Regions from separate parts of the Homo sapiens genome. Here region 2 is linked to region 1. The links come from fine-mapping of genetic effects on gene expression. A gene starts in region 1. The other region holds a variant in brackets. All regions are shown on one strand. Distances are between the middles of the regions.

Region 1 (16,423 bases):
CTCTGGCCAACCCCAGGCGTATACAGATGCAACACTCCTAGGAGGGAATTTTACCCTCCCATTTGAGCAAAGCCCACAAAAGACTTCCTGGCTTCTGCGGCATAAAAGACACAGAACTCAGCCCTGTTTCTGGCAACTTGCTTTTGTTGCAATAAACTGAGGAATGGAGAGACCAATATGAGAGAAACAGGAGGATTGTTTATTTTCGGTATGCACTGGCTCAGTGGACTCACATCCAAAAAGCTGAGCATTGAACAAAGACAGAGTGGGGTTTTTATAAGTGGCCTTACAGAAGCAAAACAAAAGCAGTTAATCATACAGTGACAGGTCACGTAATCTATAGCATAACATAATTTGTGACCTTACATAGCTGGTGGCCTTGCAGCTGCATCGAAAGAAAAACAAGAGCTGGCTAAATACAGACATTTGTAAAACATAATAATGCTTAAGAAGACTGAGAAAAGAGTAACAGTAAAATAATCTGTCTTTCTCTCTTTTTTCCCCCTCAACCTTGCTCTGGAAGCAGGGGAGTGTCTGGAGCCCATTCCTTTGGCCTTGGCTATTCCGACAGCGTTGTTAACAGTCCTTGAAATGAGCTTGCTAAGCAGAGGAAAACTTGTCCTTTTCTTTTTCTTTTGAAACCTTGCCTTGCCACATTCTGGGCCTTAGCTTTTACTTTTCTTGGGGTGAATAAGTGCAGTACTTATTATTATGATTGTTATTTTTAAATTTCTGCCTCGCTTTCAGGACCCCTCTCTTTGCTGAGAGTTTTCCTTTTGTTTAATAAATCCTGTTCTATTCTACTCACTCTCCACTGTCTGTGTGCCTTATTCTTCTTGGTCGTAGAGCAAGAACTCGGACCTAGCTGCACTAAGGACTAAGCAAACTACAAAGGAAGCAAGAGATTGGAGTGATTCAAGGAAGAAGCCACGAGCCAAGGAATGCAGGTGGCCACTAGGAGCTGAAAAATGCAAGGGAACCGATGATCCCCTCAGAGCCTCTGAAGGAGCCACCCCTGCCCATACCTTGACTTTAGCCCAGTGAAACTGGTTTTGAATTTCTGACCTTTAGATCTGTAAGATAATGAACTTGTGTTGTTTTAAGCACTGAGTTTTTGGCAGTTTGTTACAGCAGTGGGAAACTAATACAATCCTCTGCTTGCATAATCGGTCCCTTAGGCATGAGGGGAGGGTGACGACTCATTATGCATTTGATCAGGAAGGGTGGATTTGACCTGCTTATTGACCAGGGAAGGGTGGAGCTGAAAGGCATACAAACCTGCCATGCAGATGTAAACTAGGGGTGGAGCATACTGAAGAGATATAAGCAAGACTCTGGCCTACTAGGGGTGGAGCACACTGAAGAGATATAAGCAAGACTCATGGATAATAACCAAGATGGAGTCACTCTGGCCAATCCCAGGCATATACAGATGCAACACTCCTAGTAGGGAATTTTACCCTCCCATTTGAGCAAAGCCCACGGAAGACTTCCCGGCTTCTGCCACATAAAAGACACAGAACACAGAACTCTACTTCTACAAGAAGTAGAAGGTAGAGCCAGCAAGAGATACAAACAGAACATCCAATTCTCGTGGCAGGAGGATGGTGAGTTTGCACAGAGAAGGGGCACAGGATGATGGCAGGCTGAGCTGTAAATATTTTTAGGTATTTGGTTCCTATTTTGCTTATACCTAAATTAATGATAGAAAAGAGGATTTCCACTAGGGTTTTGGGCTGATTGCTTTTGGATGTGGGTTACTGGTACCCAGTGGGGAAGAGGATAGAGACACAGGAGGAGATGCCTGTTGGGAGACAACCCTACCCAACAGGTGCTGAATTCCAGGAGGATGTGTGAGGCTGGAGATACTCTCTAAGACTGGGGAACTCATCACCAGGAGGCTAGTGAGAGAAAGCAAGGGCCCCCCCGTGGAGTTGGACCTGACTGTAGCTGGATATTTTGCGAGTGGGTTAGTTTACACAATGACTTGTCAATGCTCCATTTATATGGATATAGCTGAAAGTCAGAAAGGAAATAGAAATCTGTGAGTTTAGCATCAAAATGCCGAAGGCATTTCAGAGTGTGTGTATTTTAGGTAGAGGACAGTCTCTGGGCTGTTGGCTTAGCTCTATCCATTCTTCTTGGACATGTAATTTTAAGAAGTGTGGTCATCTGGTTTCTGCCAAACAGATGAGGAAGCCAGGAGATGAGAACAGACAGACAACCCTAAGAGGCAAGAGCTGGAAGCCCATGTTAGAAATGCTAATAGTGGGCCAGGCGCGGTGGCTCACACCTGTAATCTCAGCACTTTGGGAGGCCAAGGCAGGCGGATCACCTCAGGTCAGGAATTCAAGACCAGCCTGACCAACATGGTGAAACCCCGTCTCTACTAAAAATACAAAAATTAGCCAGGCATGGTGGTGGGCGCCTGTAATCCCAGCTACTTGGGAGGCTGAGGCCGGAGAGTCACTTGAACCCGGGTGGTGGAGGTTGCAGTGAGCCGAGATCACGCCATTGCACTCCAGCCTGGGCAACAAGAGTGAAGCTTCATCTCAAAAAAAAAAAAAAAAAAAAGAAAAGAAAAAAAGAAAGAAATGCTAACAATGAAAAAACAATGAAAAACAAAATCAATACACACACAATGGTACCTCCAGCTGCTCCTGCCGCTCAGCCCTTCCCAAGAACTTCCCAATCTCCCTACAATCCACCAATCCAGGGTTAACTCCTGGCAGAGCAGGGAGCTTTCAGACTTTCCTCCACACCAAGTCTGGCTTCTGTCCTGATTGGTTATGTCCCAGCCTTATGGATACCCCTGAGCATAAACGTGCATTGCTTTAGTAATCAATTAAGCTAGCTAACTTTCCTCTCTCAGTATCTGGTAAAAGAAATCCAAAAACTACAGTTAGGGGTCATTTCTTTCCTTTCTTTCTTTTTTTTTTTGAGACGATGGAGTCTCCCTCTTGAGCCTCCCGAGTAGCTGGGATCACAGGCACATGCCACCATGCCTGGCTACTTTTGTATTTTCAGAAGAGACGGGGTTTCACCATGTTGGCCAAGCTGGGCTCGAACTCCTGACCTCAGGTGATCCATCCCCCTTGGCCTCCCAAAGTGCTGGGATTATAGGTGTGAGCCACTGTGCCTGGCCAGGGGTCGTTTCTTGCAGGGAGAATTATATATATATGTTATATGTTATAGGCCCAGCAGACATCAATATATTACAATGCAGGAGAATAATTGATGTTCATATTAGTGGGACTCAGTCATTAAGAAAAGTTTAATAAAATTCAGCTTTATCTTTTTAAAACTGTACCGTACATTTTAGAGGTTTTAAACATCTTGGTGCTTACATAGGATTGAGCCTGTAACCATCTAGAACTTACTTGTTCAGAGTGACTCATTCTTCAGGATGAGCTCACACTCCTGCATGAAACAGAACAATAGCCTTTCTGTGTTACTTACACCCAAATAAGCATATTCTTGTGTAGGCAGACTCTTTCTTTTTTGTTTGTTTTTTGTTTGTTTTTGTTGTTGTTTTTGAGACAGAGTCTCGTTCTGTTGCCCAGGCTGGAGTGCAGTGGCGTGATCTCAGTTCGCTGCAACCTCTGCCTCCTGGGTTCAAGTGATTCTCATGGCTCGGCCTCCCAAGTAGCTGGAATTACAGGCACGCACCACTATGCCTGGCTAATTTTTGTATTTTTAGTAGAGACGGGGTTTCACCATGTTGCCCAGGCTGGTCTTGAACTCCTGACATCAGGTGATCCACCCACCTCGGCCTCCCCAAGTGCTGGGATTACAGGTGTGAGCCACCGTGCCTGGCCTGCCAGACTCATTCTTTTATGCTGGTCCTGTGCAGCCTGGGCTAACGGTGCCTCCCTAGTCATTTGGTTCATGATCTGTCCCTGCTCACCTGGGCTGATGGTGCCTTCTTGCCCACCTGGGCTGGCCATGCCTCCCTGCCTCCTTCTTTTTCCTTGCCTCAGTGGGCCTTGTCGGGGGGGCAGTGGTAGAAGCAAGGAAGAACAAAGGCTCCTTTCTCCCTTTGACCTGATGTTGTAATAATGATAAACTTGTCAACTCATCTCCGACAGCCAATCCAACCATAGACCCTAGAAAAATAGGAGTTTAGAATTAAAAAAACAACCTTGATCAGCCAAGGATATGGTTGGATGAAGGCAGAAGGAAGCTCATAGCATAGAGAGACACACTAAAAATAAAAGCAACAAAAACAGAGCACACATAGGGCACGCACCTGTTGTCCCAGCTACTTGGAGGGGATGAGGCGGAAGGGGGTGCTGAGGCGGGAGGATCACCTGAGCACTGGGAGGCTGCAGTGAGCCATGATTGCACCACTGCACTCCAGCCTGGGCAACAGAGTGAGACCCTGTCTCAAAAAAGAAACCAAAAACCAAAAACAACAACAACAAAAACCCACTGCCACCACCACCAACAAAAGCAAACCCAAACAAACAATGTGCCTCCCAAATCCAAGAAGAAGACTCATGTTCAAAGGTGACGGAAAATTTCAGGTTTGAAGTAGACAAGGAGTCAGAAAATAGGCAACACTACTGACCACACCTGATTCTGGGTCCAGTATGTCCTTGGCAGTGTGCTGTACAGCGGAGGGAGGGGACCCTCTCTCTAGAAATATGCCCTCGTTGGCAGATGGCCTTGCTTCTCCAAGAGGCCATCATCTGATCTGACCCCCGTATTGCCTTAATTACTCACTTTCACACCAATTCTCAACACCAGCCAGGTCAACAGGTTGCTGGCCAGTCCAGGCTCTTGCCTGAGCGAAAGGCAAAACCAGGGCAAAGCTTCAGATGTGATGGGTGGATACGCTGCACAGCAGTTCTGCAGAGGGGCTGCTGGCATCACAGCTTCACAGACGCAGTATGTGCACTGTATTTTAAGGAGCTGTGTGAGGCAAGGAACGCCCCAGAGCTCTCCTGGGAAGCCCCAAATGCTCACCGCAGGGCAGTGAGACCCGTGGGGCTGGGAGCTGCCAGGAGTGGTGGGCCCTCTGCATTTCACTGTGCTCTCCCGCAAGCACTCCTCTCTCTGACTCTCCAGGGCCCCTCTTTGGGCAGTCTTCCCCTCCCCCTTGGCCCAGGCTTTCTCTGAGCTCCTTCCTGCTCCAGTTCCCCTCGCCTGGGCTCATCCAGTCCTCCCAGGCTTCCGTGACAGCCTGACATTTTAGTCTCTGCCTGCCTGCAGCTCCCTGATTCTTTCTGGGTCTCCCAATTCAGATTCCCAAGAAAAAATTCAGATGACTGAGTTTGTGTTTTCCTGCCAGTTTGATGTCAGGGGTCCTGCCTGGGCTTGTAAAGGGTCTTGGTCTCCTCAGCAGAGGTGGGGCCTTGTGATTTACAAGGTGGCCCTTTCCGCAGGGCTGGGAGTCAGCAGGTGGGCGTCACTGGTTTAGCAAGGACAGAAGAGTAGGTTTCTCATTTTTGCAAAGAAATGGTCCATAAGCTGGAGATTGAAGCATTTTTCCTCCAGTTCCCTCACTAACCAGCTGGGTGGCAATGATAAATCACTTCCTTTTCCTATAAAATGAGGGGTCTGAATAGATGCTAATGCCATTTGCTACACACCAGGCACTGCTCCAACTACTGCAGGCACATTTATTGCCGAATCCCCACAAAGGAGGTGCTATCACTAACTCCTTTTAAAGAAAGGAGGCGGCCAGGTGCGGCGGCTCACGCCTGTAATCCCAGCACTTTGGGAGCACGAGGCGGGAGAATCGCTTGAGTCCAGGAGTTTGAGGCCAGCCTAAGCAACATGGTGAAAACCTGTATCTACAAAAAGTACAAAAATTAGCAGGGCGTAGTGGCATGCGACTGTGGTCCCAGCTACTTGGGAAGCTGAGGCAGGAGGATTGCTTGAGTCCAAGAGAAGTGAGCTGAAATCGTATCATTGCACTCCAGCCTGGTGACAGAGAGAGACCCTGTCTCAAAAAAGAAAGAAAGAGAGAAAGAGAGAAAGAAAAGAAAGAGAGAAAGGAAGAAAGAAAGAGAAAAAAGAAAAGGAAGGAAAGCTGAGGCACAGAGCGCTGAGTTGCCCATGGTCACACAGTTAGCAGGTGGCACAGATCCTGTCTAGTTTCAGAATCCTTGTCCTTGAACATGCTTTGCTCTCTCTCTGAGATTCTTTCAGCTCTTGAGCTTTAGAAATGGAAGTTTCCAGCAAGTTCTTTGCAGCAGCTGATGTTCCCTATTAAATGACAGTGGGGAGTCTTAGAAGTATTCGGGAGGCCTACGTTCACCGCTAACATCCTTGTTGTGAAGGCCTGCTGACGTTTGCCATTCCAGGACCAAGTGGACAATGAGTTAAGCTAGGCCAGGAGGGGGTTCAGCTCCCCATAACAAGGCAGGGGTGGCCCTTTGTGTCCGGCAGCATGGTAGCCCCCCCGCAGGAGCTCCGGCTACCCTTTGTGTTTGACCTTGTGGAAGGGCATGGGAAATGCTGGCCTGTCAGCAGGCATAAACTCAAAAGTTTCTCCTTCAGCTAATTTCAGGGACTGTCTAGCCAAGTGAATACACAGGATTAGGTAATCCATGGATCCTGCGAGGGCAATTGGCTGATTGGCTTAGGTGTGCCCAAGAGCCCTGCAGGTGTCAGAACAAATCCATGTAGAAATGCAGACGCCCACACCAGCTTGAATGGCATAAAGGCACACATTGGAATGTGGCTCATGAGCTGGGACCCAGGATCAACCACTGGTTTAAGGAGAGGACCGTGAAATGTCCAAACATGGAGGCCAGGCCACCTCCCTGGATGCCTGGCTGAGGGCAGCCACATGTCTGCAGCGGTGGCTTGTGTCCATGACTGAGATGGGCAGGGTTTGCAGGCAGTGGTGATCCCATCAGCAGTCCCCAGATCTCTAATGTCAGGAGAAAGAGCATGGGAAGTCCGACGTCCAGGAAAGTCTTTCATCCTGCTTCTCCCTGCCTTGGGCCTTTTCCCATTTCCGCGGTCACCTGTCCACAATGGCTGCACTGTGTGGCTCTTCAGGTGTTCCTAAGACACTGAACAACCAAACCCATGGACTGACCGGATATGAAATTGACGTGGGAGGAGATCAGGCAGGTGCTGGGGCTGCCTGGCGCAATGCACGGAGCCAGAAGTGCTGTTATGGGGAGGGTGTTATTGTTTTAGTGGGTGCAGCAAAGGGTGGTTTAGCCAGCTGGGCAGATCAATTGTAAATTGTTATTTACAGTTTCTGAGCCTTTAAAAGAAGAGCTTCGCCGGAATCAGTCTTCATTACAGATGTGCAGCACCATGAGGGCCCTGGTGCTTCTGCTGTCCCTGTTCCTGCTGGGTGGCCAGGCCCAGCATGTGTCTGACTGGACCTACTCAGGTGAGCCCCTAGCTTCTGCATGCTCCCCCAGTTACCCTCACACCCTTACAACAGGACAAGTGCCCTTCTTCTTCTTCTTTTTTTTTTTTTTAGACAAAGTCTTGCTCTGTTGCCCAGGCTTGAGTACAGTAGTGTGATGTTGGCTCACTGCAACCTCCGCCTCCCGGGTTCAAGTGATTCTGCTGCCTTAGCCTCCCGAGTACCTGGGATTACAGGTGCCTGCCACCATGCCTGGCTAATTTTTGTATTTTTAGTAGAGACAGGGTTTCACCATGTTGTCCAGGCTGGTCTCGAACTCCTGACCTTAGGTGATCTGCCCATCTCCCAAAGTGCTGGGATTACAGGCATGAGCCATTGCGCCCGGCCAAGAGTCCTCCTTTAGGGCATTTCACAGGATGGCCAGGCAGCCCACTTGCCATATGTTGGGGGTCTGCTCATTGTGGCTTCAGATGTTACCTTTTCAGTGTCTCAGAAGGTATGGAGAATAAGCTGAACTTAAACTTCAAATAAGGAAAAGAAGGAAATAGCTTTCCCCTTCACAAACTCCTGATTTACTTACAGGCTTTTTGCTTTAAATTTTTTTCCATCCACAGTGTTGGCTGGTTCAAAAGCACACTCACTGCTTCTATTTGTAAAACCATTTGCTTTGTTGGTCCGTGTAAGTGGAAAACAAAGTTCTTAGAAAAGACTCTCGGTAACCTCACGGAAGGTGCTGTGGGGTTTGCGAGACCTTCTTTCTTGGAAATTTCATGGTAGGCAGTTTACCCAGAACATCTTGACATAAGGACCCAGTTCCCTTTGATCTGTGGGCTGCCAAAATGAGAGGTGTTTTTTTTTTTGTTTTTTTTTTTTTTTTGAGACAGAGTCTTGCTCTGTTGCCCAGGCTGGAGTTCAGTGGTGCCATCTCGGCTTACTGCAACCTCTGCCTCCTGGTTTCAAGCGATTCTCATGTCTTAGCCTCCCAAGTAGCTGGGATTACAGGCACTCATCACCATGCCTGGCTAACTTTTGTATTTTTAGTGGAGATGGGGTTTTACCACGTTGGCCAGGCTGTTCTCAAACTTCTGACCTCAAGTGATCCGCCCACCTTAGCCTCCCAAAGTGCTGGGATTACAGGCGTGAGCCACCGCGCCAGGCCCCAAACCAGACTTTTAAAATGTGAAATGTAAAATCCTGGCATTCAACATGGGTTCTGGTCCACATGTGAGCCAAAGCTAGAAGGCCGTGTCTGTGGACTTTGTGGACACTAAACAGCCCTTTCCAGGGGCAGTGAGGAGAGCTTCTTCCCGCATCCCCCTTCTTTCCATACGGGACCATGGATTGGGGCCCATGAGGAGGCTGGTGGCCGCTGGCTGATGCAGGAAGTGAGACAAACATCTGCTTCCTGCAGAGTCTGCCCCAGTTCAGCTGCTCCGGAAGCATTCCTTCAGGGTGAACGGGATGATCTGTTAAGTCAAGGGCAACGGAATTAGGGACATCCTGGGAGGTTCAGAAAGTCCAGCCAGCTCTGAACAACCGCTCTGTTCCTGAGGACAGTGATCTTACACATGGCAGTGCCTCGGAAGCCTGGGGCATTCTGCTTCACTTGGCCAAGCAGTGCAGGCAGGTGGTTCAGAGGTGAAGGAAGAGAGAATTCAGACAATGAAGTCCTTGTCCTTCCCAGGCTCTGCCCAGCCTCTGAGACAGTGGGCTTCCTGGGAAACTACTAGGGGCTCCAGGAGAACTTGAGAGTAGCTTTTGTAAATGCCTTCCAGGGAAACCTGAGAGATGTTCCAGTATTGACAGTGCCCTGGGCCAAAGCATCTTGCTCTGAGAAGGCGTTGTGCTCCAGGCCAATTGCCTTGATTACAAACCAAAAAGCGGTGAGGGCCCTAGTACAGACACCTTTTTTTTTTTTTTTGAGAGTTTCACTCTCGTTGCCCAGGCTGGAGTGCAGTGGCGCGATCTCGGCTCACCGCAACCTCTGCCTCCTGGGTTCAAGTGATTCTCCTGCCTTAGCCTCTCAAGTAGCTGGGATTAACGGCATGTGCCACCATGCCCGGCTGATTGTTTTTTATTTTTAGTAGAGATGGAGTTTCTCCAGGTTTGTCAGGGTGGGTCTCGAGCTCCCAACCTTAGGTGATCCACCCGCCTCGGCCTCCCAAAGTGTTGGGATTACAGGCATGAGCCACCGTGCCCAGCCACAAACACCTGTCTTAAAACAAGCTGTGTACTCACCACACAGCTACCCCCGAACAGGGAACAGAGGTGGGATTCTCCATGTCACATGGCTGACTCCAAGCTCCACAGCTGTATGGGAGCCAAGTCACCATGATAATCACTCACCTATGTTACTCTGTCCCCTACGATTATCAACCCTCTCTGAAAAGATAAACTTTCTCCTTATGAATTTTAAAAAAGTACTCATTCTAGGTTGTCCTGGAACCTGATGCTTCCTTAGTTTCCCTGAATCCATAAGTGTAGACACCTAGATGGTCTTTACCATACGGGAATCCATAAAAGGGGCTGGAGCAAGAAAATAGTGGTGGGGGGTTCCTGCAGCATGGGGAGGTGGGGGCTGTGTTCCTGTTGGGGGCATGGAAGGACAACTGGGCCCTTGGGAGGAAATGAGGAAGAGGCCCCAGGAGCAGCACAGGAAGAGCAAAGCCAAGGATCCCTCCATGCATTCACCAGCTGGAAATAAGTCAAACGAGAGCAAAAATTTACGTATAAAACACTCTCAGGCCGGGCACGGTGGCTCACGCCTGTAATCCCAGCACTTTGGGAGGCCAAGGTGGGTGGATCACCTGAGGTCAGGAGTTAGAGATCAGCCTGGCCAACATGGTGAAACCCCGTCTCTACTAAAAATACAAAAATTAGCCAGGCGTGGTGGTGCATGCCTGTAATCCCAGCTACTCCGGAGGCTGATGCCGGATAATCTCTTGAATCTGGGAGGCAGAGGTTGCAGTGAGCCAAGATTGCACCACTGCACTCCAACCTGGGTGACACAGCGAGACCCTGTCTCAAAAAAAAAAAAAAAAGACTTCCATTGATTTCAAAACACTGTCTTGCTCCCAGGGCCAGCAGTTGCCACAGGAAAGTTAGAGGTTAGCACCAAAGCCCCCCAAACACCAGAGTCCTTGGAGTTGACCTCGTTGTCTTTTTGGCCTCCTTCTGGGGGACCTGCTTCTGCTTTCTGGAAGGTGCCTCCGTGGGTCCCCGCCCAGCAGGCCCTGGCCTCTGGCCTCTGGCCTGGTGAGGTTCCTCCAGAGTGGGCGCAGCCAGGCAGCCCCTTGAACTGTGTCTTTCCTGTCTTAGAAGGGGCACTGGACGAAGCGCACTGGCCACAGCACTACCCCGCCTGTGGGGGCCAGAGACAGTCGCCTATCAACCTACAGAGGACGAAGGTGCGGTACAACCCCTCCTTGAAGGGGCTCAATATGACAGGCTATGAGACCCAGGCAGGGGAGTTCCCCATGGTCAACAATGGCCACACAGGTAAGAGGAAGGGGTGGTGAGGGGCTCCAGTCCATGGGCAGCCTGCAGGGGAAGGCAGGTTACACGTGTCCCTGCCAGGAATGGCTTGCACAGAGACACAGAGCACGGCCTCAGAGCTGGAGGCCTCGAACATGAGGGTCGAACATGAGGGCTGACTGGCCCCGAAACCTAGTGGCTCTTCCAGAGAGGGCAGCATCCATCTTTCGACTCAACTCCCTGCTGGTCCCTTCCTGCAGCGTTATCCTCTTACCCGAGCTCACCCAACCCACCCAGCAGGTGACAGGCAGGACAGGCCGTGCTGCTGAAGCCACCCTTCCCACGGGGGCTTTCTGTCCATCACCTTGGGTCAGCTTTTCCACATTTCCTATATTGAGTCTATTCAGCTCAAAGCACCTGACAGGTAGGACCAGGGTTTCTCAGAGTTTTAAGAAGAAAGCTCTGGCTTTCTGATCCCTACAAGAAAGAAGGTGAAGGTCAGACAGAAAAAGCAGGGCCGTGGGGATGCCCCACTTCAGGAATCCGATATGAGAAACTGTAAATTTTGTTTATTTTTTTGAGACAGAGTCTCACTCTGTTGCCCAGGCTGGAGTGCAGTGGCAGGATCTCAGCTCACTGCAACCTCCACCTCCTGGGTTCAAGCGATTCTCCTGCCTCAGCCTCCTGAGTAGCTGGGATTACAGGCATGCACCACCATGCCCAGCTAATTTTTTTTGTATTTTTAGTAGAGACGAGGTTTCACCATGTTGGCCAGGCTGGTCTGGAACTCCTGACCTCAAGTTATCTGCCCACCTTAGCCTCCCCAAAGTGCTGGGATTACAGGCACGAGCCACCATGCCCGGCCTGGAAACTGTGAAATCTGTGCTTTACTTGTGCAGAATATCCTCCTGATTTTCCAAGTTGGCTCGACTCCTCTGAGCCTCATGACCACCCCAGGAGGGGGCATTTTTTAGGCAGGAAGTCTGAGGCCTCAGGAGGTCGAGGGACTCACCCAAGGCCACACACTGTCTAATGGCCAAGATGGGCTCACACCCCCAGTTGTCAGGTTTCTTGGCCACATCCTCCTTAGGTTCTGCACTCTCTCACTCCTGCTTGGGTTGAGATACATCCCTGCCTGCCACACAGCGATAGGACAGTCACTGGACTTGGCCAGGCATGGTGGCTCATGCCTGTAAACCCAGTACTTTAGGAGGCTGAGGTGGGAGGATCACTTGATGCCAGAGTTTGAGACCAACCTGGGCAACTTGGTGAGACTTCATCTCTACAAAAAATCAAAACATTAGCCAGGAGTGGTGGTGAGTGCCTGTAGTCCCAGCTACTCGGGAGGCTGAGGTGGGAGGATCACTTGAGCCTGGGAGGTCAAGGTTGTGGTGAGCCGAGATTACCACTGTACTCCACCCTGGGCAACAGAGCGAGACCGTTTCTTTAAAATAAAAAAATAAAAGGGTCACAGGACTTAGTGTTCTTATCTTGCACAATCAAGAAAATAAAACCAGCCTGGTGAGGTGGTTCATGCCTGTAATCCCAGCACTTTGGGAGCCCGAGGCAGGCAGATCACCTGAGGTCAGGAGTTCGAGACTAGCCTGGCCAACATGGTGAAACCTTGTCTCTACTAAAAACACAAAAATTGGTTGGGCGTGGTGGCGCATGCCTGTAATCCCAGCTACTCGGGAGGCTGAGGCAGGAGAATCACTTGAACTCAGGAGGCAGAGGTTGCAGTGAGCCAAGATCGTGCCATTGCACCCCAGCCTGGGCAACAAGAGCAAAACTCCATCTCAAAGAAAAAAAAAAAAAGAAAGAAAGAAAACCAATTGTCCTTTATAGGGTTGGTGAAAGTAGCAAATTGGAGAATGAAGCTCTGTCTGTAAAAGGACTCAGGTTTATGTGGCCAGGAGCCCTGAAATACACAAAGAATGAACAAAAGCCTCATTTTCATCATAATGTCGAGCTCTTGTTTCCAAAGTTACTCTCTGATGCTTCCAGATTGGCAGGCGGAACTCTTCCTCCCCTCCTTGTCCTCTCCTTGTGGAGAAGGGGCGAAGCACAAAGGCCAAAGGCAGTGGCTTTGTTCACCCTCCCTGGACAGCTGGTGGGAAGCAATCATTGATGGAGGATCTCTATGGGCAACGCTTGCTGAGTGCGGGCTTCGTGCTGAGGGCCCAGAAGAGGGAAGGCATATGGAAGAGAAGAGCCCAGCTTCCCAAGGGGCTTGCAGCGGCTCCCGCCTCCCAATTTCCAGAGGACCCTGTACCTTCTTCCTTTAGGGCTCTGCTCAAATTTCTGTGGTCCGGAAGCCTGTTCCTTTGGGGTTCTCACCTCACACGACAGCATGTCGGACATTAGAGTGGACCCAAAGTTCACATTAATTATATATATATTAAAAACAATTTTTTTTTTTGAGATGGAGTCTTGCTCTGTCACCCCGGCTGGAGTGCAGTGGTGCAATCTTGGCTCACTGAAACCTCCACTTCCCAGATTCAAGCAATTCTCCTGCCTCAGCTTCCCTGGTACCTGGGACTACAGGCATGTGCCACCACGCCCAGCTAATTTTTGTATTTTTAGTAGAGATGCGGTTTTGTCATACTGGCCAGTCTGGTCTCGAACTCCTTGCCTCAAGTGCTCTGCCCACCTTGGCCTCCCAAAGTGCTAGGATTACAGGCACGAGCCACCAAGGCTGGCCATAATTCCATTTTTCGATGTAAAGGGTTTTTTTCTGAGATGGAGTCTCACTCTGTCACCCAGGCTGGAATGCAGTGGCATGATCTTGGCTCACTGCAACCTCTGCCTCCTAGGGTCAAGCAATTCTCATGCCTCAGCCTCCTGAGTAGATGGGACTACAGGCGCACACCACCACCCCCAGCTAATTTTTGTATTTTTTGTAGAGATGGGGTTTCAGCATGTTGGCCTGGCTGGTCTCGAACTCCTGACCTCAAGTGATCCGCCCACCTTGGCCTCCCAAAGTGTTGAGATTATATGCATAAGCCACCGTGCCCAGCCTGATATAAAGTATTTTGAAAGATTTTTATAATTTAGCTTTTGAAGTTATTTGGCTATTGCCATTGGCTACTTTTCAGCAAGCTCCAAGCACATTCAGGAATTCTACTGAAGGGGGAAAAAAAGCTAATCTACAAACTTTGAATCTAATGAGATTTTGATGAACACTAAGCTTAACAGTAAAGTTGACATGACGTATTAAAGATTTGTTAATTTTTGGTTTTGCAAGGTTCTTTTATTTGAGACGAAGTCGTGCCCTGTAGCCCAGGCTGGAGTGCGGTGGCGCGATCTCGGCTCACTGCAACCTCCGCCTCCCGGGTTCAATCAATTCTCCTGCCTCAGCCTCCTCAGTAGCTGGGATTACAGGCATGTGCCACCACGCCTGGCTAATTTTTGTATTTCTAGTACAGACAGGGTGTCACCATGTTGGCCAGGCTGGTCTCAAACTCCTGACCTCAAGTCATCCGCCCACTTCGGCCTCCCAAAGTGCTGGGATTACAGGCATGAGCCACCATGCCCAGTCAGGTTTTGAAAGGTTTCTAATCACATGTATCGAGCAATCATTTCAGTGTCATGAAAATCCTGTGTTCCACCTGTTCATCTTTCCCTTCCTTCCTAAACCCTGGCAATCACTGATCTTTTTATTTGACCTATAGTTTTTCCTCTTCCAAAATGTCATATGGTTGGAATCACACAGCATGTAGCCTTTTCACATTGGCTTCTTTCACTTAGCAATATGCATTTAAGTTTCCTCCATGTCTTTTCATGGCTTGATAGCTCATTTCTTTTCAGTGCTGAATATTCTATTGCCTGGATGAACCAGTTTATCCATTCACCTATCCAAAGACATCCGGGCTGCTTCTCAGTTTTGGCAGTTATGAATAAAGCTGTTATAAAACCCATATGCAGGCCAGGCATGGTGGCTCATGCCTGTAACCCCAGCACTTTGGGAGGCCAAGGTGGGAGGATCACTTGAACCCAGGAATTTGAGACCAGCCTGGGCAATGTAGTGAGACCTACGAAAGTAATAAAAAAATTAGCCTGGCATGGTGGCTCAAACATACAGTCCTGGCTACATAGGAGGTTGAGGTGCGAGGCTCACTTGAGCAGCTTGGGAGGTCAAGGCTGCAGTGAGCTATGATTGCACCACTGCACTCCAGCCTGGGTGACAGAGCAAGACCTTCTCTCAATCAATCAATCAATCAGTCAATCAATCAATCAATCAATTCCATGTGTAGGTTTGTGTGTTTTCAGTCCATGTGGGTAATTACCAAGAGCTTGCTTGATCGTATAGTAATGTCAGAGGCGTTTGAACCAGAGTGACCCCATCTTGAATAGGGGGTGGGTAAGATAAGGTTGAGACCTACTGGACTGCACTCCCAGGAGGTTAAGGCATTCTCAGTCACAGGATGAGATAGGAGGTTGGCACAAGATACAGGTCATAAAGCTTGCTGATAAAACAGGTTGCAGTAAAGAAGCCTGACAAATCCTACCAAAATCAAGATGGCCACGAGAGTGACCTCCAGTTGTCCTCACTGCTACAGTCCCACTAGTGCTATGACAGTTTACATATGACATGGCAACGTCAGGAAGTTACCCTATGTGGTCTAAAAAGGGGAGGCATGAATAATACACCCCTTGTTTAGCATATAATTAAGACATAACCATAAAAACGGGCAACCAGCTGCCCTTGGGGCTGCTCTGCCTGTGGAGCAGCCATTCTTTATTCCACTACTTCCGTTTTTTTTTTTTTTTGGAGACAGAATCTTGCTCTGAGGCTGGAGTGCAGTGGTGCTACCTTGGCTCCCTGCAACCTCTGCCTCCTGGTTCAAGTGATTCTCGTGCCTCAGCCTCCCAAGTAGCTGGGTTTACAGGCATGCACCACCATGCTCCATTAAGTTTTATAATTTTAGTAAAGACGGGGTTTCGCCATGTCGGCCAGGCTGGTCTTGAACTCCTGACCTCAAGTGATCTGCCTGCTTCGGCCTCCCAAAGTGCTGGGATTACAGGTGTGAGGCACTGCGCCTGGCCTATTCCTTTATTTTCTTAATAAACTTGCTTTCACTTTATTCTGTGGACTCACCCCAAATTCTTTCTTGTGTGAGATCCAAGAACCCTCTCTTGGGGTCTGGATTGGGACCGGTTTTTGGTAACATATAGACCAAGTTGGAAATAATTGACATTGAGATAGTATTAAGTCTTCCTATCTGTGAACATGGAATATTTCTCCACTTATTTAGTTCTTCCTGATTTATTTCATTAGTTTTGTGATTTTCCTTATATAGATTTTGTCCATATTTTTGGGTTATTTTTGTATTTTTAGTAGAGACGAGGTTTCGCCATGTTGGCTAGGTTGGTCTTGAACCCCTGACCTCAGGTGATCTGCCTGCCTTGGCCTCCTAAATTGCTAGGATTACAGGTGTGAGCTGCCGGGCCTGGCCTCCTCATTTTAAAATTAAATTTAAATTAGATTCAACATTTCAATAAAGAGAAATTCAAATTGAAACACAGGCTGTTGAAACAAAGACAAGTTGCTACAAAATTTCTAAAATGAACTCCCAATTTCTCTGTTTTGGTGCAGACTAGTAACAGTTG
Region 2 (16,423 bases), 23 kb after region 1:
GAAGTATTTGCTTAACACAAAAGAAGGCAGTAAAGGTGGACCAATGCAACAAAAAAGGCACGAGACATCTAGAAAACAAATAGCAAATGCAGTCATAAAGCCAAGAAAGCCAAATTTATGCACAGTGAAAGAGATCAACACCACTTGACTGAAAAGAGCCATTGAAAATAGACCTTTTTCACCCAAAGCAACTTTTCTGACTGTTAAAGTCAATACTCATTCAGAAAGAGTGACCTGGTGTTGGGGGAATTGTAGTCGTTCTGCCTTGGACATCTGGCTCTCTGTCGGAAGTCCTGAGGATGAAGAAGGGAACTTGTGAGATCAAGCCCTCCTCATCACAAAGAATCTGACTGTGGCTGACACTGCCCAAAACAAGTGCACAGACCAGGTGCGGTGGCTCACGCCTGTAATCCCAGCACTTTGGGAGGCCGAGGTGGGCCGATCACCTGAGGTCAGGAGTTGGAGACCCACCTGGCCAACATGGTGAAACCCCATCTCTACTAAAAATACAAAAAAATTAGCCAGGTGTGGTGGTGGGCACCTGTAATCCCAGCTACTCGGGAGGCTGAGGCAGGAGAATTGCTTGAACCCTGGAGGCAGAGGTTGCAGTGAGCCGAGATTATGCCACTGCACTCCAGCCTGGGGAAGAGAGCAAGACTCTTAAAAAAAAAAAAAAACTCACAAACAAACAAACAAAAACAAGCGCACAGGGGACTTTTTTAGAGTAAGAGTTGGCCATTTCTGAGGGCATCACCAATGACTGACAAGCTTCTTTCCCTGGAAGCTGCCAAAATACTTCAGATAATGCCTTTCTGGAAGGACTCATGAACCTGCGTGGTTGGTAGCAAAGAACAGCCAGACTGTCTCTGCCAAAACACAAGACGGCACAGGCTGCCTCTCCTTACTCTCTAGGCTCGGCCCAATCCGCTAGAAAGCTGAGTGGCTGGATTAGTAGCGATGGTGCTGGGGCCTCTTCTTCACTTACGCTCAGTGCTCTGTGTTTCTCTGCAGGTGAAGAATTACCCTGAAAACACTTATTACAGCAACTTCATTTCTCATCTGGCCAACATCAAGTACCCAGGTAAGGGAAGCCAACTGTGGCTGCAGGAGGGAAGGGGAATGAGTGTGAGTGTGAGTGTGAGGTGGGCCCAGGGGGCAGGGGATTGATGCTGGTGGGGAGGGTGGCCCGTGGGCCCTGCCAAGGGAGTCCATCCCTCCCTGTGCCAGGTTACTTGTTCCAGTGATTTCTGCTGTTGGCTTAGGCAGCAAACCTCTCTGAGAAGCCTGTGCATAAATTCGATGTGTCATTTCCCATGATTGGAACTTCTGACTGGAGTTGCACTAAGTAGGCATATCCTTGCTTCGATGACTGTCACCTCAGCTGGCAGTGACAGTCCTGGCAGCTAGAGAGATGTCCACCTGGCTCCAAGCTGAGATGAATGTCAAGAGGGAAGCCCTCGTCATACCACTTGGACATCCAGACACTCGGGGTGTTCTTCCGTCCCCTCTCCTCCAGAGGGCGGCGTTCTTGTAAGAGCCATTTCCCACCCAGGGTCAACCCTTGACTTTTGAGCTATAACCACAATAGCTCTGCATCCTCGACTTCACACGTCCCATTCCGGCCACACCTCCCAGCCTCCCAGTCCTCTGACTTCAGCACCCAGCCCCTCCTGCAATTCACCTGACCGGAGTCCTCCAAACCTGGGGCTTCCACATTCTTGCTCCTAGTGACGCCTGTGTCCTTTCATCTCTCTCCCAGCTTAGATTCCACCCCGATACTCTCAAGTCTCCCTCAACACTCCCATGCAAACACCCTCTAGCCCTCACCCCTCCACCCCTCCACAAACTCACCTGGCAAATCTCCAGACCAACTCTGGAGTTTTTTTAGTTATTTTCTTAGTGGTTGGCTGGCAGCCAAACAGCTGAATGCAACTGGACAGAAATCCATAGACATCTAACTGGTATTATTATCGTTATTATTTTTGAGACATGGTCTTGGTCTGTTGCATAGGCTGGGGTGCAATGGCGCGATCATGGCTCAGTGCAGCCTCGACCTCTGGGACTCAGTTGATCCTCCCACCTCAGCCTCCTGAGTAGCTGGGACTACAGGTGCACCACCATGCTTGGCTGGTTTTTTTGTATTTTCAGTAGAGACAGGGTCTCACCATGTTCTCAGGCTGGTCTTGAACTCCTGGGCTCAAGTGATCTGCCTGCCTCAACTTCCCAAAATTTTGGGATTATAGGCATGAGCCACCACACCTGGCCAACTGGTATTATTTTTTATTCATAGCTACAAATATGAACAGTGCCCAGAAATCCTAAAGTATCACGCTGGGCATTTTCTTTCTGACCTCCCAAATTCCTGTCACATGCTTTCTCCTCTCTCCTGAAGCCCCTGTGCCTGGGCTCCAGCAATTCCCCTGGAGCTGACGCTCCCACTCCCACTCCATTGAGAAGACAGAAGCCACAGGCCAGAAACACTCCGCTCCTTAACCCACGTGCATCTGGACCAAATTCCACATCCCCTCTTCAGCTGCAACGGATGACAAATCCCTGCTCTTGTCAACACCACCCCTCCCACGTGGGGCCCAACCCCACTCCTCTCCCATGCTCAGGGCCTCCTTTCCTGCTATTCTCTCCCTGGTCTTCTGCATCGTTGATTTCTCTCTCTCTCTCTCTTTTTTCTTTTTGGAGATGGAGTCTTGCTCTGTCACCAGGCTGGAGTGCAGTGGCATGATCTCAGCTCACTACAACCTCCGCCTCCCGGGTTGAAGTGATTCCCCTGCCTCAGCCCCCTGAGTAGTTGGAATTACAGGCACACACCACCATGCCTGGCCAATTTTTTGTATTTTAGTAGAGACAGGGTTTCACCATGTTGGCCAGGATGGTCTCGATCTCCTGACCTTGTGATCTACCCGCCTCGGCCTCCCAAAGTGCTGGGATTACACGCATGAGCCACCGTGCCCGGTCTGCATCGTTGATGTCTTACTCTTTATTAAAGCCTCCTGCTCAGCACACACATCTGCCCTAATTCCTCCCACCTCCAAACACAAGCAAACAAACGTTATCTCCTGACCTTACCATTCCCCAGCTTCCCCCAGTTCTCTGGCTCCCCTTGAAAAGGTCATAGAATAGTCCTGTTCTCCATTCTCACCCACCCCACCCTGAGCTGGCCCCAATGCTCCACGGAGCCGGAGTGACGGTCAGATCTATGGGCCACTCTTCTTCTCGTCTTAGTTTACCTTCAAAGGGTGGTCTGGCGCGCCCCAGCTCTGCCCTCTCACTCTCTTTCTGGCTCCTGCCCTAAATGTTGGGTGGAGTCAGGCTCTGTCTCATCTCAGTGACTCCACGCAGTCCCACAGCCTGAATTAAAACTTACCACTTAAGGCTGGGTGCGGTGGCTCACACCTGTAATCCCCTCACTTTGGGAGGCGGAGGCGGGCTGATCACCTGAGGTCAGGAGTTTGAGACCAGTGTGGCCAACATGGTTGAACCCCGTCTCTACTAAAAATACAAAAATTAGCCAGGCATGGTGGTGCACGCCTGTAATCCCAGTTACTCGGAAGGCTGAGGCAGGAGAATCGCTTAAACCCGGGAGGTGGAGGTTGTAGTGAGCTGAGATTGTGTCGCTGCACTCCAGCCTGGACGACAGAGCGCAACAACATCTCAAACAACGACAACAACAACAAACTTACCCCTTAAACCATTTTAAATGTACAGTTCAGTAGCATTAAGAACATTCACAGTATGATGCAACCATCACCCCGCTCCATTGCCGGAACTTTTTTTCGTCTTCCTAAACTGAAACTCTGTACCCATTCAACAGTTACTCCCCATCTCCCCTTCCAGCTTCTGGTAACCACAGTTTCTGTCTCTAAGAATTTGACTATTCTAGGTACCTCATATAAGTAGAATCAAACAGTATTTGTCTTTTTTTTTGGTCTGGATTATTTCACTTAGCATAATGTCTTTTAGGTTTGCCCACATTGTAGCATGTTATCAGAATTTCATTCCTTTTAAAGGCTGAAGTGGCTGGGCGAGGTGACTCACGCCTGTAATTCCAGTACTTTGGGAGGCCAAGGCTGGCAGAGCACTTGAGGTCAGGAGTTTGAGATCAGCCTGGCCAACATGGTGAAACCCCGTCCCTACTAAAAATACAAAATTAGCCAGGTGTTATGGAGGGTGCCTGTATTCCCAGCTACTCAGGAGGCTGAGGCGGGAGAATCGCTTGAACCCGGGAGGCAGAGGTTGCAGTGAGCTGAGATTGTGCCACTGCACTCCAGTCTGGGTGACAGAGTGAGACTCTGCTTCAAAAAAAAAAAAAAGGCTGAAGTATATTCCATTGTGTGGATATATGATATTTTGTGTATCCATTTATCTACTGGTGAACATTTTGGTGGCTTCTACCTTTTGGCTATTGTGAGGTAACGCTGCTATGAATATAGGTGTACAAGTATCTCTTTGAGTCCCTGCTTTCATTTCTTTTGGGTAGATAGGAGTAGAATTGCTGGGTCACATAGTAATCTATGTTTTTTTAATTTTAATTTTTTTTTGTTTTTTGAGACAGAGTCTCGCTGGGGCGGGAGTGCAGTGCCTTGATCTCGGCTCACTGCAACCTCCGCCTCCCAAGTTCAAGCGCTTCTCCTGCCTCAGCCTCCCGAGTAGCTGGGATTACAGGCACGTGCCACCATGCCCAGCTAATTTTTGTATTTTTAGTAGAGACGGGGTTTCATCATGTTGGCCAGGCTGGTCTCAAACTCCTGACCTCAGGTGATCCACCCGCCTCGGCCTCCCAAAGTGCTGGGATTACAGGTGTGAGCCACCATACCTGGCCGTATGTTTATTTTTTGAGGAACTATTATACCATTTTCCGTGGTGGCTGCATCATGATTCTGGAATTCTTGACTTTCACTTAAATATATTAGAGTTACAAAAATAAATCTCTACCACAGAGCCCTTTTGGAGGTTATATCTTGAAATCTTCCAATAATAATCAAACTTAGAACTCTTTTGCCTACTCATGGGCTTATGCACTCTGAGACATTGTGGCCTTGGTTGAACAGGCCTATCTACGTATGTATCAAAACTATGTTCTCTGCCTTTAAGAAGCGCAGAAGTGCTCAGGGAAAGTGAAGCAAAATCCAACTCAATCCTGTGTTGCCTTGAGAGTCTTGTGCTGAGCTCAGGGGCTCAGTGTTGTTGACATGAATGAAACAAGGACCTCTCTAGAGCAGGAGCAGGTGTGGCTGCTGCAGGAGTTTTGCAGGCCTGGTGGAAGTGGCCCCACCCTACGCCCCACCTGTGGCTGGGCTTGGTTTCCAGCGGTTGTGGCAGGAAGAGCTCAGGACCAAATGCCTGTACCTGGACCCTGGCTTGGTTCTGATTCTGCATTTATTATTTAAAAAAATAATAAAAAAAACAACTTATTGTAGAGACGGGGCCTCCCTGTGTTGCCCAGGCTGGTCTTGAACTCTTGGCCCCAAGCAATCCTCCCGCCTTGGCCTCCCAGAGTGTTGAGATTACAAGCGTGAGCCACTGCGCCTGGCCTGATTCTGCATTTACAACTGTTGTCTACCCACTTCTCAATGAGCCCAAACCAAGGCATTTTGGTCTTTCTTCAAGGGCACTTACCCAGAAGTCTCCAGGGGCCATATTTATTTCTTTCATTGATCATAAAATGTGTCCTCTGCCTAGCCATGATAATGGTGACCGCAGCAGTTACACTTAGGAGTACTTCCCTATGTAGTGGTTCAATGCCAGCTGCTTTCCAGACGTTATTCCTTCTTACCCTCACAACAATCCTGCTGATTATTCCCTTTCTACAGATGAGAAAATGGCCGCAGGGTGAGCACCCGGCCAAGAGCACTCAGCCAGGAGCAGGTGTCTGAGTGCGTCTATCCCCAAAGTCTCTCCTCTCAATCCCTTCCAGGAAGAAGTAAACTGGGAAATTGTTTCTTAATCATCAGCTTCTATGTTCTGCTGAACTCAAGAGATTGGAACCTGGCGAGGCCTGGGCCTGAGCTGTCCTCCCGAGGGGCAGCGCTGGTCCCTGACATTCTGTTACCTTCTGTCTTCTTGGTCAGGACAAAGAACAACCCTGACTGGCCTTGACGTTCAGGACATGCTGCCCAGGAACCTCCAGCACTACTACACCTACCATGGCTCACTCACCACGCCTCCCTGCACTGAGAACGTCCACTGGTTTGTGCTGGCAGATTTTGTCAAGCTCTCCAGGACACAGGTAATGTATGGTATCACTTTGCCGAAGTCTTCCCATTCGATTGCCTGGTTAACAAGGGTTCTCCCCAGCATCTCAACGAACGTCAACAACTAAGGGGTCCTACAGTATTTTCTGTGTGCAGGGCTACTGTGCCTCGTCTAGCCAACCTTTTTTTTTTTTTTTTTTTTGTGAGACAGAGTCTCGCTCTGTCACCTGGGCTGGAGTGCAGTGGCACGATCTCAGCTCACTGCAACCTCCGCCTCCCAGGTTCAAGCAATTCTCCTGCCTCAGCCTCCCGAGTAGCTGGGACTCCAGGAGTGTGCCACCACGCCCGGCTAGTTTTTATTTTTAGTAGGGACAGGGTTTTATTATGTTGCCCAGGCAGGTCTCAAACTCCCAGGTTCAAGCAGTCTGCCTGTCTCAGCCTCCCAAAGTGCTGGGATTACAGGTGTGAGCCACTGCACCCGGCCATCTCCTTTTCTTAAACTTTTCATTTCCTTAGAAAAAGGTGGAAAAGACCCCTGCTCAAGGACACTCACACTCCAAAATGTTGCCAGTCAGGCTAGAAGTGCCCCCAGACACCTGACAAAAGCAAATGGTAAATTATCTCTGGGAAAATGACCTTAAATCCAGACCTAGAAGAATTTTCACAAATAAAGTTACTTGAAATTAGCTCAATTAAGAAAAAAAAATACAAAACATATGAGAAAAAAAGACATTATAGATGAGAACCAGCAGAATCAGACCTACAAAGACTTCAGTTAGTGGAATTATCAGACAATTAATATGACATAAGAATGTTTAACATGTATAAAGAAATAAAAGGTTTAAATATGAGAAAAGAGCAAAAAAGTATAAAAATGGACATCCAGACTTGGGACAAAAACTCAAATAGAATTTCTAGAAATGGAAAAATAGTATCAAAAATTAATAATCCAGGCCAGTTGTGGTGTCTCATGCCTGTAATCCCAGCACTTTGGGAGGCCAAAGTGGGTGGATCACCTGAGGTCAGGAGTTTGAGATCAGCCTGGCCAACATGGTGGAACCCCGTCTCTACTAAAAGTACAAAAAATTAGCCAGTCGTGGTGGTGGGGCGCTTGTAATCCCAGCTACCCCAGAGGCTGAGGTGGAAGAATCACTTGAACCTGGGACGTGGAGGTTGCAGTGAGCCAAGATTGCACTACTGCACTCCAGCCTGGGCAACAGAGCAAAACCCTGTCTCAAAAAAAAAAAAAGTTTGCTGGGCACGGTGGCTCAAGCCTGTAATCCCAGCACTTTGGGACGCCAAAGCGGGTGGATCACGAGGTCAGGGGTTCGAGACCAGCCTGGCCAACATGGTGAAACCCTGTCTCTACTAAAGATACAAAAAATTAGCCGGGCATAGTGGTGTGAACCTATAATCCCAGCCACTCAGGAGGCTGAGGCAGGAGAATCGCTTGAACCCAGGAGGCGGATGTTGCAGTGAGCTGAGATCATGCCATTGCACTCCAGCCTGGGCAACAGGGCAAGACTCCATCTCAAAAAAACAAAAACAAAAACCCAATGAATGGGTTTAACGCATGTTAGATACAGTTTGAGAGAGAATTAGTAAATTGGAGACAGCCAATAACATTATCTAGAATGCAGCACAGAGAAAAGGAGATGGAACTATGAAAAGAAGTGAAGAGACATTGTGTACTGGAAAGGTCTAGTAAATGTCTAATCAAAATCCTAGAAGGAGAAGAGAGGCAGAGTAGGGAAGAGGCATGATTTGACAAAATATTGGCTGACAATTTTCAGGAAGAGATACCAAGTCATATATTCAAGAATGCCAATTAGTTTCTCTCTCTGTCTCTCTCTCTCTCTGGGTGTGTAGATATGTGTGTGTGTGTATACACAACATCCTGCAGTAAACGCATCACATTGAAATCATCAAAGACAAAGAAACTATTTAAAAATTAGCCAGAAAGAAAAGACAGATTATCATGAAAAGAGTATTATTAGACAGAGAGTTGATTTAACAGCCACAGTGAAAGTCAGAAGGGAGTGGAAACATAATTTCAAAGTGCCGAGGGAAAAAAAATAGCCAATATAGAATTGTATGTGCAGCAAAGATGCCTTTCAAGGATATAGACAAAATACAGACATTTTCAGGTCAGGTGAGGTGGTTCATACCTGTAATTCCAGCACTATGGGAGGCTGAGTGGGCGAATGGCCTGAGGAGTTTGAGACCAGCCTGGCCCACATGGTGAAACCCCATCTCTACTAAAAATATAAAAATTATCTGGGTGTGTGGGTGGGTGCCTGTAGTCCCAGCTAGTCAGGAGGCTGAGGCAGGAGAGAATAACTTGAACCCGGGAGGTGGAGGTTGCAGTGAGCCGCAATCGCGTCACTGCACTCCAGCCTGGCGACAGAGCGAGACTCTGGTCTCAAAAAAAAAAAAAAAAAAAAAAGAGAAAAACCTGACATTTTCAGAAAAACAAAAATTGAGTTTGCCACTTGATATATTTCTGCTTCTTCTTTCTCTCCTTTCTACTA[C/T]TGGACAAATACTCATATAAAAAGCTGAAAAGAGAGCTTGTGTGCAGATACCTGTTGGAAGAATGCACGGATAGATTAGTTCTGGAATAATGCCTGAGACACAGCACCCAGAACCTCCCCTGGACTTGAGATCTTCTTACAGTCACTTCATCAGGGTTATATAAATCCAAACTCTAGCCCAGTTGTTAATTCTTTTTTATTTTTTATTTTTTTTGAGACAGAGTTTCTCTCTGTCTCCCAGGCTGGAGTGCGGTTGCGTGATACTGGCTTACTGCAGCCTCTGCCTCCCAGGTTCAAGCGATTCTCCTGCCTCAGCCTCCTGAGTAGCTGGGATTACAGGTGCACACAACCATGATCAGCTAATTTTTAGTAGAGAAGAGGTTTCACCATGTTGGCCAGGCTGGTCTCCAACTCCTGAGCTCAAGTGATCTGCCCGCCCCAGCCTCCCAAAATGCTGGGATTACAGGCGTGAGCCACTGCGCCGGGCCAACTGTTATTTCTTTTAAATTACCCAGTGACTCTTCCCCTCCATAATGCACTCACGTTGCCCCCAGGTTTGGAAGCTGGAGAATTCCTTACTGGATCACCGCAACAAGACCATCCACAACGATTACCGCAGGACCCAGCCCCTGAACCACAGAGTGGTGGAATCCAACTTCCCGAATCAGGGTGAGTGAGACCGACTCTTGATCATGCTCTGCAGTTTAACTCCTGTTTTGCTCCTTCCTCTAGGTGGACCCATCTCTTCTGGTGATATAAGGGAAGGAGAGTCATTTCAGTAGCAAGAGGCTCAGGTGGGCCAAGCTGCACAGGGCTTGGGCAGAGGGTGATGACTTTTTCCCAGTCCAGGCAGGGATGCCAGTGAGTAGAACACACGAGACAATCAGAAGCGACAGCTACGTGATTTATTACCTACCTAGTCTTGGCTAGAGAGAGCAGGAGAAGCAAGAAGACCACAACATCCGGAAGCTCTCACAAGAGTGTAGGTTCAAGTTAACCTTTTTTTTTTTTTTTTTTGAGACAGAGTCTCACTCTGTCACCCAGGCTGGAGTGCAGTGGTGCAATCTCGTCTCACTACAACCTCTGCTTCCCGGGTTCAAGCAATTCTCCTGCCTCAACCTCCCCAGTAGCTGGGACTACAGGCACCTACCACCACGCCCGGCTAATTTTTTTTTTTTAACTGAAATGGGGCTTTGCCATATTGGCCAGGCTGGTCCCAAACTCCTGACCTCAGGTGATCTGCCCACCTCGGCCTCCCAAAGTGCTGGGATTACAGGCGGGAGCCACCGTGCCTGGCCAAGTTAACCTTATTAACCCCACCCAGATTATTTCCTGCGCATCTTGATCATAGTCTGTGTTATGAACCCACCCCCAACGCCTCCTATACATTCTCTCAAAGTGGAGTTAACTAGACCACATATTGTTCCCTGCATCTGCCTGGGGCGCAGGCCCCAGACCCCAGCGTGCTGGAAGCAGGTGCGGGCAGGCCAGCCTCCGCTGCATCCTCCAGTTCCTTGGATCAGGCTCCAACCGTGTCCTTGGCTCACCTCGTTTCTGTGTTGGCAAGAGTGTAAATATTTCACAGCCTCCTCATCTTTATTTTGTCTGCTTTCTGTAAAGTTGTGGTGAATCCATTGTCTTTACAGCCCATTCTGTTAACCATTCCTGATACCTTTATATTTTCCAATACAGTAGAATCAGTATCCTATCAATATTGTGTACTCAATATTATCCCACTTTTTTTTTCTTTTTTGAGACAAGGTCTCAGTCTGTTGCCCAGGCTGGAGCTCAGTGGCACAATCACGGCTCACTGCAGCCTCAAACATCCAGGCTCAAGTGATCCTCCCACCTCAGCCTCCCCAGTAGCGGAGACTGCAGGCACACACCACCACACCCAGCTAATTTTTTTTGTAGTTTTTGTAGAGATGGACTCTTACTATGTTGCTCAGACTGGTCTCAAACTCCTGGCCACAAGCAATCCTCCCCCCTCAGCCTCCCAAAGTGCTGGGATTATAAGCACGAGCCACCTCGTTCGGCCTTATCCCATCTTTATATGTACCTTTTAAAACTTAAATTTCCTCCGGGTGTGGCGGCTCACGCCTGTAATCCCAGCACTTTGGGAGGCTGAGGCGGGCAGATCACGATGTCAGGAGATCGAGACCATCTTGGCTAACATGGTGAAACCCCGCCTCTACTAAATATACAAAAAATTAGCCAGGCGAGGTGGCGGGCGCCTGTAGTCCCAGCTACTGGGGAGGCTGAGACTGGGGAGGCTGAGTAGCTGGGCATGAACCCGGGAGGCGGAGCTTGCAGTGAGCCGAGATTGCGCCACTGCACTCCAGCCTGGGCGACAGAGAGAGACTCTGTTTCAAAAAACCAAAACAAACAAACAAACAAAAAAATTAAATTTCCACCTCCCCAACCCGAATAAGGCCTATTTGTGATTTTCTCCCCACCTTTCCTTCCTGGTTCACTTACTGAATTAACAGAGGATATAGGTGTTTTCTATATTGTTTCCTGAAATACAATTCACTCCTCCAATACAATACTAACAGAAGAAAAAAACTGACATCAGTTACAGTAATCATTTCCCCATATTATACCATATACAACATTAACAGCAAGAATCCCTTTGTCCGAAAGTGATGTCGTCTTTAACAGGTCCAATTGCAAGCAGGCTGACCAAAGGGAGCTTAGACTCATGGGTCTGTCTCCTAATTCTTTTGGAGTCTCTCACTCTGTCGCCCAGGCTGGAGTGCAGTGGTGCAATCTCATGGGCTCACTGCAACCTCCGCCTCCCAGATTCAAGCAATTCTCCTGCCTCAGCCTCCCAAGTAGCTGGGATTACAGGCACGCGCCCCCACGCCAGGCTAATTTTTGTATTTTTAGTAGAGATGGGATTTCACCATGTTGGTTAGGCTGGTCTTGAACTCCTGACCTCAGGTGATCCGCCTGCCCGGCCTCCCAAATTGCTGGGATTACAGGTGTGAGTCACTGTGCCCGGCCTGTCTCCTAGGTCTAAATGTTGCCATATTTCCCCTGCTTTCCCTAAAACAATTTTACGCTATTCTTGCAATAGTCACTAACAGACTGCGTATCGTTCTATTTGCCACATCTGAAATGCTTTTTCCACTACAGCGTCACTCTAGCATCTCCTCACGAGGGGGTCAGATGTTCTAGGTACCGGCCCCAGACTGAGGTATTCCATGCTGTGATTTGTCTGTAGGTCCACTAAGAATCGCTGTTTAGGATCGATTACTTCAACTCCCAGTTCAGCATCAGAGGGCTTCCTTACCCCCAGGGAACCCGAATTGTGGCCTCCCTTTGCTGATTATAGAACAGACAACTGGGCATCATCTTGGCCCACCTTCCCTCAGGCCTGGATTTTTCTTTCTCTCTCTTTCTTTCTTTCTTTCTTTCTTTCTTTCTTTCTTTCTTTCTTTCTTTCTTTCTTTCTTTCTTTCTTTCTTTCTTTTCCCTCCCTCCCTCTCTCTCTCTCTCTCTCTCTTTCTTCCTCTCTTTCTTTCTTTTTTTGACAGAGTCTTGCTCTGTTGCCCAGACTGGAGTGCAATGGCGCAATCTTGGCTCACTGCAGCCATGACCTCCAGGGCTCAAGCAGTCCTCCTACCTCGACCTCCCAAGTAGCTGGGAGTAGCATGTACCACCACACCCAGCTAATTTTTGTATTTTTTTGTAGAGACGGGCTTTGGCCATGTGGCCCAGGCTGGTCTCGAACTCCTGAGCTCAAGCAATCCACCCACTTCAGCCTCCCAAAGTGCTGGGATTACAGGCATGAGCCATCGCGCCTGGCCAGGCCCAGATTTCTATGTAGCAGTGATTGGCTGTGGTCAACCCAGCTGCGTGACTCATGGTATTTCACTGTTCTGTAGAGAACTGTATCCCAGCGGGGTTGATATGATTAACCCACCTGCAAGGAGTGAATTGAGAAACCAAGGTCAGTTACAAAAACAAGACGATGGCCAAATACGGACCTCTTGCGATTTATTTACTAGAAAACGCCTATATCCCCTCAGGCAAGGGCCACGGGGGGCATCGTGGGAGAAGCCAAAATCCAAGAGTACAGCCCACCTCAACACGCCACCCCTTGGCTCTGGGCAGCTTAGAAGCCTGAGTTCAAACACAGTGAAGATGACTAAAGGCAATGCACCGGGCACGTGGAGAGCATTCTAAGGAATCAAAAGACTTCCCAAAAATACGATGCGGGTATGGTGTCTGGCCGTCCCCCTTCTCTGTTTTTGTGAGGACTGTACAAGGTTTAACCATTTCCGACTAACTCTTCTTTTTACAGAATACACTCTAGGCTCTGAATTCCAGTTTTACCTACATAAGATTGAGGAAATTCTTGACTACTTAAGAAGAGCATTGAACTGAGGAAAGCTAAGAGGAAGATTCAATATTAACTAGCTTGAAGCCTGACCTAGCCAGAAGTGCCTGTCCGCTGCAGCCGCACCCTACCTTGTCTAAGAAACCATGTGTGTCTGGAACACGCTGCTCCCCCTGGGGCAGCTGTTGGGATTCTGATTAAAAGAGGGGAAACGATCATCCTGGACAGGAAGTGAGATGGCTTCAGTTCATGAGACGGGATCTGAGTTAGACATCACCAGTGGAAATTGATTGGAATAGAAACTTAAAGGAAATGGAACCCTAACTATTCTCCCATCAAATCATATATGTTGACCTGTCTGAATTATAAACCAGCCTGACCTTTCCTTTAGCATTAGATGTAATAAAATAACTTTGGAAATTTGTCATTTAAAAATTTCTTTCCTATTCCTTTGTATTACTTCAAATATCCCTTCTTTGTTCTGCCCGCCCCCGACTCCTCCCCCCACTCCTCCCCCTACTCCCCCACAACCGCACATAGGTGAAGGGATAGAGATCAAAGTGGGAGGGATTTCCAAGACTAAGATTAATAAAAAGGAAGGAGGTGTTTTTTGTTGTTGTTGCTTATTTTTTTGAGATGGAGTCTCACTCTGTTGCCAGGCTGGAGTGCAGTGGCACAATCTTGGCTCACTGCAACCTCCACCTCTTGGGTTCAAGCAATTCTCCTGCCTCAGCCTCCCTGAGTAGCTGGGACTACAGTTGCGCACCACCATGCCCAGCTAATTTTTTGTATTTTTAGTAGAGACGGGGTTTCACCATGTTGCTCAGGATGGTCTCGATCTCTTGACCTTATGATCCGCCCGCCTCGGCCTCCCAAAGTGCTGGGATTACAGGCGTGAGCCACCGCGCCTGGCCTTTTCTTTTCCTTTGAGACAGAGCCTCGCTTTGTTGCTCAGGCTGGAATCCAGTGGTATAATTTTACTGCAACCTCTGCCTTCTGGGTTCAAGCAATTATTCTGCCTCAGCCTCCCAAGTAGTTGGGATTACAGGTGTGCACCACCACGCCCAGCTAATTTTTGTATTTTTAGTAGAGATGGGGTTTTGCCATGTTGGCCAGGCTGGTCTCAAACTCCTGATCTCAGGTGATCCTCCTGCCTCGGCCTCCCAAAGTGTTGGGATTACGGGCGTGAGCCACCACCCCTGGCCTAGGAAGAGATTCTTACACTGAGAATTTGTCAGTGGGGAAGTTTGGAGCAGTGGCTGTGAGTCAAAGAAAAAACAGGAGACGAGAAAGAAGAAGGGCTCCCAGGACAGAAGGAAAGAAGAGAGGGGACCTCACTGCAAACCCCCTTGTTGGTCAAATGGTGCCTGGTCCTTGTTACCAGACCCAGATTCAGGCATCCCATTAGTTATGTGGGATGATAACATGACCTCACAGGGCTCATAGGGCTGTGGCTTCATTAAATAACACTGAGAAGTACCCAGAAGAGTGACCCATATTTTTTTTATCATTAAATAACACTGAGAAGTACCCAGAAGAGTGACCCATATTTTTTATTTTTATTTTTATGTTTTTTGAGACAGGATCTTGCTCTGTGGCCTAGGCTGGAGTGCAGTGGTGATCCTAGCTTCATGGCAGCCTCAACCTCCTGGGCTCAAGTGATCTTCCTACCTTTGGTCTCCCAAGGTGCTGGAATTATAGGCATGAGCCACCACACCTGGCTGCTACCAATTTTCTTGGTCACTTATGCATTCCCTTCATCGATGCCCCTTCCTTCCCATGCCTTAGCTTCCTCCTCACTTCTGATTGAGCTCACCCTGGCTCTTCTGAATTCCTTCTGCTCTTGTTACCTCTGTTGTTTTTCCATGTCATTATTTGTCATATCCTAAGCACTTCCACCACACGTGACTGCCCTCAGCCCCGAAGGCCACCTTCAGTGAACTTGCATTATCCCCAGTTTACAGAAAGCAAACCAAGACGTCGACTTGCCCAAGATCTCCTAGGTGGCAGATGAAAAGCCAGGATTTGAACCCAAGTCTTTTGTATCCACATTCTTTTAACCATAGGAAGCCTCCCTTTCATTTTCTCAACAAGCTTTCTTATGCACTTGCTCTGAGCCTGACATAACACTAGGTGCTGGGGGTTCAGGGATGGGTGAGAACAGCTCCCACACTCCTACAGCTCGGGTCTGGTGAGCAGAGTGGACACTAAAATAAGTAATCGCCATATCGCCCCATGGTGGAGGGAGCGCCTGTGTTTAAAATCCAAGTGCTTGGCCTGGGTTTTGAAGGCTGAGAAAGAGTTCACCTGGGAAACCAAGTCAGAGAGGGGCGGGGGTATTGTAACCCGAGAGTGTGGCATGTGCTGATGGGAAGACACCTGGGGAAGTGGAAGCAATTTGGCGTGGTCAGAGGACCAAGTTCAAGGATGCTGGCACGGAAAGCGGGGGTGTGGCCAGGGCAGGTCAGGCCGTCACTGGTATCTTCTGTGCCACTAAAGGGTTTCGGATTTTACCCTGTAGGTGACGGCAGCGACTGCAGGGTTTCCACAGGGGAACGACACGGTGCGATTCATTCTTTCCACCAGATATGTGTGTCTATAATGAATGAGAGACGCAACAGTGGGCGGTACGGCCAAAGAGCTTACTTACATTCCTGTGGGAAGGCAGACAAGGAAATGAAGATGGAGATGGGATTACACTTGCCTGTCCTCAGGGATCCAGCCCTCCCACCCCTGAAAGTCTATCCTTAAGAGAGGCTTGTGGCCGGGCGCGGTGGCTCACGCCTGTAATCCCAGCACTTTGGGAGGCCGAGGTGGGTGGATCATCAGGTCAGAAGATCGAGGCCATCCTGGCCAACATGGTGAAACCCCATCTCTACTAAAAATACAAAAAAATTAGCTGGGTGTGGCGTGCATCTGTAATCCCAGCTACTCGGGAGACTGAGGCAGGAGAATCGCTTGAACCCAGGAGGCGGAGGTTGCAGTGAGCTGAGATCGTGCCACTGCACTCCAGCCTGGCGACAGAGCAAGACTCCATCTCAAAAAAGAAAGAAAGAAAGAAAGAAAGAAAGAAAGAAAGAAAGAAAGAAAGAAAGAAAGAAAGAAAGAAAGAAACTTGCAAAAAAGCCATTCATGCTGACCTTTTTAACAGCAAAATACAGGAAAAAACACAAACGTCCATCAGTTGGGGATTGGTTGACTAAACCAGGGCTATTCACACAACAGAGAACTGCATAGGGAATAATCTCTAGGCTACATTTGTTTCTTTTTTTTGAGATGGAGTCTCTGTCACCCAGGCTGGAGTGCAGTGGTACGATCTCAGCTCACTGCAACCTCTGCCT

Evidence for each region. PIP is the estimated chance that this variant, and not a neighbour inherited with it, causes the effect.
Region 2: its variant is fine-mapped to the expression of CA6 in whole blood (TOPMed, PIP above 0.99). The same link has a PIP of 0.9 or more in blood mononuclear cells.

The regions. Positions count from the first base shown.
Region 1 is chr1:8,938,606-8,955,028 of GRCh38, forward strand. It overlaps CA6 (carbonic anhydrase 6), which reads left to right and starts at 7,263. Exons shown (of 8, transcript NM_001215.4): 1 at 7,263-7,360; 2 at 10,658-10,837. The coding sequence starts at 7,282.
Region 2 is chr1:8,961,576-8,977,998 of GRCh38, forward strand. CA6 (carbonic anhydrase 6) reads left to right here. Exons shown (of 8, transcript NM_001215.4): 5 at 1,012-1,081; 6 at 6,084-6,241; 7 at 9,292-9,406; 8 at 13,047-13,517. The coding sequence ends at 13,129. Among named protein-coding and RNA genes, the nearest start is that of CA6, 24 kb to the left of the region's middle. RefSeq lists an enhancer at 1,415-1,709. The variant C/T (reference allele first, on the strand shown) is at 8,738.